Linked DNA regions of Homo sapiens: region 1 is linked to region 2. The links come from fine-mapping of genetic effects on gene expression. A gene starts in region 2. The other region holds a variant in brackets. All regions are shown on one strand. Distances are between the middles of the regions.

Evidence for each region. PIP is the estimated chance that this variant, and not a neighbour inherited with it, causes the effect.
Region 1: its variant is the best candidate, but not a certain one, in a credible set for the expression of PLA2G12A in whole blood (TOPMed, PIP 0.52).

The regions. Positions count from the first base shown.
Region 1 is chr4:109,707,743-109,710,661 of GRCh38, forward strand. PLA2G12A (phospholipase A2 group XIIA) reads right to left here. Exons shown (of 4, transcript NM_030821.5): 4 at 2,247-2,919. It also overlaps a transcript of CASP6 not described here. Among named protein-coding and RNA genes, the nearest start is that of CASP6, 5.8 kb to the left of the region's middle. The variant G/A (reference allele first, on the strand shown) is at 1,775.
Region 2 is chr4:109,728,883-109,731,801 of GRCh38, forward strand. PLA2G12A (phospholipase A2 group XIIA) reads right to left here and starts at 1,188. Exons shown (of 4, transcript NM_030821.5): 1 at 720-1,188. The coding sequence starts at 927. It also overlaps a transcript of CFI not described here. RefSeq lists enhancers at 577-646, 1,306-2,182 and a silencer at 977-1,316.

The DNA.
Region 1 (2,919 bases), 21 kb before region 2:
CAGAAATTCACAGAATGATGAGGGTCTCTAGATAATGGTGTTTCCTGGGGAGAGCATGTTGTCCTACCCCAAAAATAGCAGCCAAACAGTGTGCCAACAAGGTGCCATGGGGTGCTCAATGTTGGATTTAATTTAGCTCCTCCTTGGGTGGTTGGCTATTGTAAAAAATTTACTTTGACAATGCTTTCAGATTTGATGAAACGGTGGCTTTATCTTTTGTAATTCCTCTGGACCTTGTAATTTTAAAAGTAAGCAACCTTAGAGTGGGAAAAAAATTAAAATGTGTTAAGGCACCACTTCTAATATATTAAAATAAGTATAATGAATACTTAAGAAATAAGTATAAGGAACTCATCTCATACTATTATTTGGGAGAGAAAAAATCTAATTTGGTAACTTCTACATGTGCCTGTGGTTCAAGTCTTGATGTCATTAGAGTACGAAATCAAAGAAGGGTTTTTACTCAAACCATTTACTGTTCATTGTATGCATAAAATATTTCAGAAATCACTGTCTTAGTAACTTATCCTGCAACAAAGACATGGAATTTCCATATTTCCCTTGTATGGTGGTTGTGATGATTGGGTTAAGTGACTGTGAAGGACTCAGAATACTGCCTGCCATGTGAAGAGCTCAATGAATATTGGTTATTACCATCTTGTTGTACTCGTTGGAAACAGCAGTGGCATTTTTTGGTTTCCTCATTACCTACCCCAGTTGCCTTGCATGTGGCTCAATATTTAGCCATTGACTACAATTCAGGGTTTTCACATTTACACTCTGGCTTTTATCCAGTCTGAATGAGTTATCTGACCACCAGAACTTCCAGTCCTTTGGCCTCACTTTCAGGGTCTCTGAGTCCTGAAAACATTCCCTCGACAAGAGTGGAACTCCAGTTGGCTGACGTTCTACTTATCTGAAAAGAGCAGATGGAAGGAATTTGTCATTTTTTCTCCATAAGTATCTTATTATCTCAACATTACTACTATAGTCTATGTGGTTAAGTATTTTAAAACAATATTTTGTCTACCTTTTTTTCCCCTTATTCACCACTGATCAGGATTTTGTCTAAAAACATAAATACAGAACATTTTCTTGGGTACTTATTTCAGAATTACAAATGTATAATTTTAGCCTCTTAAAGCAACAGCTAGCCACAATAAAATGGCTGAGTGCCTGGGACTGGGAAACAGGCTGCCCAGGTTCTACTCACGGCTTCCCCATTTTATTTGCTGTTAGATATGTGACAGGTAATGCAACTTAACCTCTCATAGCTTCAAACTCTTTGTTGTAAAATGAGGTCCAAATCTATTCCAGAGTTTTTGAGACAGTAAATTGCAAACTCCTATGAAAGTACTGAACCCACAGCAAGCTTTCAGTACATTAGTTATTTTCAGCACTGAAGATTACCTAAACTACTTCCCAAGCTGTGGTCTATGAACCAGCAGTATCATCATCTGAGAACTTGTTAGAAATGCAAATTCTCCTGTCTACCCCAGACCTACTGAATCAGAAACTCTGGGGGTGGGGTCCAGCAGTGTGTTTTAACAAGCCTGCCAGTGAGTCTCACGCATGCTCATGTTTGAGAACCACCAACATAGACTGGAATCCTACCAAGCACTCTCTTCCCTCTCAAAGAAAAATATTCCCACAGCAAATCCATTAAAATTCAGATACACTAAGTTAACTGACAGGATGACTTGATTCTTCCTATATCTGAATAGTTTTCCATAAAAGTGACTTATTGAAACTGGTTTGCCCTCATATCTCAATC[G/A]TGTCTTCATTACAGCTTCTCTGTGCTCAATGTCTCCTTTATGAAATAAACAGCCATCTCTGTCCCTGGAAGAAATGTGCCAAAAGATTTTAAGGAGATAGGCATTATTCAAAGGCAATATATTATTTTAAAATATAAATAAAAGTGGAACTTATTAAAACTGAAGGTCTTGGCTTGTCACCTATCATAGGAATGAAATATAGGGAATAAAGTTAAGTTCAGAGATAATTCTACAACTTAAAAATTTTGGTCACTGATTTTGGTGTTTAATATTTTTTCTTACAGAATTCATAGAAATATTAATTTCTATGATGATTCTGATTGCTATACTTAAAACTTGAAAGCCAACAGAGAAATGTTTGTCAAGTTGTCAACAAGGAGATTTTTGAAGGATGTTATGGAAACTGAATAAGTAAGCCTGAGGCAAAAAGTCTAACATCATTGTGACATATATAAAAGATGACACTAGTGATCCCTTTACAGTTTTATTAATAATTATTATTTTTCGTATACCGGTTGCACTGATTCATTTTTGCTCTTTTATTTTTTAGGCAGATGGCTGGTTTTTGTAGGATTAAGCAGTGAGGAAAAACAGCAAACTAAAAATGCTACTTCAAATATAGCAACAGTCACTACATAAGGCTTAAATCAATATATTGCAAGTAATTTCTATGAATTTTGAACAATACAATGTAGTGTATGTGGAAAGATCTTGCCTAATAAGTTTCATTCTACTCCTCAAAGTTACTGAAGTCAGTCAACTATTAATAACAGAATTGTTTTTATAGAAAGATTCCATCTTCTTTACTGTTAGATGTTATACGTGTCTTGTACTAGGATAAAATAATGAGCATTGTGCATCGCACCTTCTGATAATCTCATACTTCTATAAATACTAAGATAAATAATCACTCTTTTAAATTTAGAGAGAGTTGGTTTTAGGCTAACAATTTTTTTTCTTCTTTCCAAGACAGAGTCTTATTCTGACGCCTATGCTGGAGTGCAGCAGTGCAATCTCAGCTCACTGCAACCTCTGCTTCCCAGGTTCAACCAATTCTTGTGCCTTCACCTCCCGAGTGGCTGGGATTACAGGCATGTGCCACCACACCCAACTAATTTTTGTATTTTTAGTAGAGACAGGGTTT
Region 2 (2,919 bases):
ATGTGCTACAAAAGAACTATCTCTGCCTGAAATACTGAGTTGATTAGTACTCATACCGCCACCAAACAAATTCTCAGGTTCAAAGAGAAAGTTCAAAAAATATTAAAAGAGTAAATGAAGATAACTGTATTAACGTTAACCAACAATGAGGAGGAGGCGGGTCACTGATATCTAAGGAAAGAAGAGTTATCGGAACCCTTTCTCAACACTCGAGTACACCAAAAGTCTGTACAAAGGTCGCAAGTTATTGTCTATGGGTTTGCAGAAAAAAAACCATTTAATATCAATTATAGAGAAAGTTAATACGGCATGGTTTTTAAATTCTCAGTTTGCTTCGCATGTTCATCCAATTTACAGAAGCAAAAATGAGCTAAAACCAGTCTGTTCCACTCTATTCCCATGATTCCTACGTCAGTAAGTTCTTCGGCAACTTGGTGCAATTGAGGGGGGGAAAAGGTAATTCAGAAGCAATGCAAATGGGACGGGGGGTACACCTCTCCGTTAGAATGTGACCTCTCACATTCTAACAATAGTGGTGCGAACTTGTACCCAGCTTGCTCAATCACTAGAACGGCAAGATTCTAGCAGTGGTTAAGTTTTTCCACAGCCGAAGGACACCGTCAAGGTCTGCCTTGCATCTGTCACTCACACCTCCAGGATCTCCGTCACCCCAATCCCCCGAAAGCACGAGCCCTCGCTGGGCCCGGGTGCCCCCTCACCGTCACTGCATTTATACTGGCAGAGACCGTCCTCGCCTCCCAGGAGGTCCAAGGCGGCGTTCAGGTACGTGTCTATCTTATGAACGCCGTTCCGGATGGTCTTCAGGGTGGCTCTCCAGTCGGTGGTCTGGGCCTGCTCCTGGCACCTGACAACAGCGGCCATGAGGAGGAGCAGGAGGGTGAGCGCGGGGCGCGAGAGCAGGGCCATGCGCGCAGCGCCGGGCTCTACGGGTCCCCGAGCCGCGGCGCGGGGCGCGTCCCCACAGAGTCCCCAGGACGCGCTAGGCAGCGGCGCGGGCCCCGGACTTGGCAGCAGCCAGCTCCATATCCACGCCTCCTTCCCGGCTGGCCCTCAGGATCTCGCTGTCTTTACGTGAACCGCCTCGGGCAGGCAGCGCCGTCGCGGGGACGCGCCCGCTCACCTGGACCAGCGCGCCCGCTCACCTGGGCCAGCAACCGTCCCCTGTGCGCCTGCGCCGGAGCACGGCGCGTCAGCGGCGCACGGGAGGGGCGGGACGCGCAGGGGTGGGGCGGGGCGGGGGCGGGGTTGGGGGGGGCGGGGAACCGGGGGAGGGGCGCGCGGGGCGGGAAACGGGGGCGGGGCCTCCATGCCCACGTGGTCTCCGCGGCACCCTCCCAAGACCCTTGGTCCTGGTTCACAAGAGAACCTTAAAAAGTACCCAGGCCTGAGCCCCTTTTCTAGGGAGCCTGATTACGTTGTCCCAGGTGGCAGTGGGCGTCGGTATTTTTTAAGAAAGCTCTCCGGGCTGTTAACCGTGAAGCAAGAGTTGCAGAGCTAACCCCGGTGGCCTAACCTGACCAGTCGGGGCTCAGCACAGTAGCCCCGAGAGACAAGCTTTTCTGGGTGTGGACAACATCGGAGAAAATAACCCCTGTGCCCCCTCGCAGAGAGCGCTGCGAGAGGTCCAGCTGAGTTTCCGGCTTGAAGACGTGGTTCCATTGGCAATGTGGGCAGAGTCCGGCTGTCAGCTCGCAGAGCAGGGCTTTTCCTCCTTGCGTCCTCTCCCGGTCCTCCAGATCTGCTGTGGCCGCGGTTGGGGGAGCGGGATCTGGAAGATGCCAACCCATGCCTTGGCGGTGCCTGACTCTAATCAGGACGAGCTAAATGCTAGTTTAGACTTTCCGGAAAAAGAAAATGGGCCAACATAAAAATCATAAAATTCTCCCCTGGTAAGGAAGAAACAGTAGTGTAAACTTAAATACAGTAAAAAGTAAAATAAATCTTAAGGAAGTCATTGTTTTTCTACTCAAGGGATTTTGTAACTTGATAGTTACAGTGACGTTTGTTTCTCTGTACCTACCACCCTGCCCCCAGCATTGTGCGGGATCCATAAATAACTATTGCAGTAGTACTTTGTATCAGTTGTAAATATCTGGTTATCTTAGTATCACAGCAGTTTCCAAGAATTTTACAGTAAGATCCAGAGCAATGTTGAAAGTATTGGGCAGACCAAGCGCGGTGGTTTACGCCTGTAATCCCAGCACCTTGGGAGGCCTGGAACTCCTGAGGTCAGAAGTTCGAGACCAGCCTGGCTGACATGGTGAAACCCCATCTCTACCAAAAATACAGAAAATTAGCTGGGCGTGGTGGCGGGCACCTGTAATCCCAGCTACTCGGGAGGCGGAGGCAGGAGAATCACTTGAACCCAGGAGGTGGATGGATGTTGCAGTGAGCTGAGATTGCACCACTGCACTCCAGCTTGGGGCACAGAGCGAGACTCTAAAAAAAAAAGAAAGTGAGTAAGTATTGGGCATAGGTGTGTCCTTTCTATAAGAATTACCAATAAGTTCTAGGTTTGGCCTTTTGTGTTTGTTACAAACTAAATGAGCTTATAATAAACGTTCAGTGCACAGTTCATAAAAATTACATCCCTCTTTATTGAGTGCTTACTATGTGCCAGGCACTTCATGAATATGATCGCTCACATTCAGAACACTACTTTACAAGGATGCAGACTTTGGGCAAGTTAGAAACATAGAAAGGCATTCCTCCCTACAAACAGGGTAGCCCAACAAACGGTGTAGCTCCTGGCTGGAGACTGCCTGCACTTCACTCAGCCCCTCAACCAGGAGTCTTGGGCAGTGATTAATTCCTACCACAATGGAGAAGGGGGAAGAATGTTCCCTGGAAGGTATTATTATCTTCCTCTTTTACAATAAAAGAGTCGAGGTGAGAAGT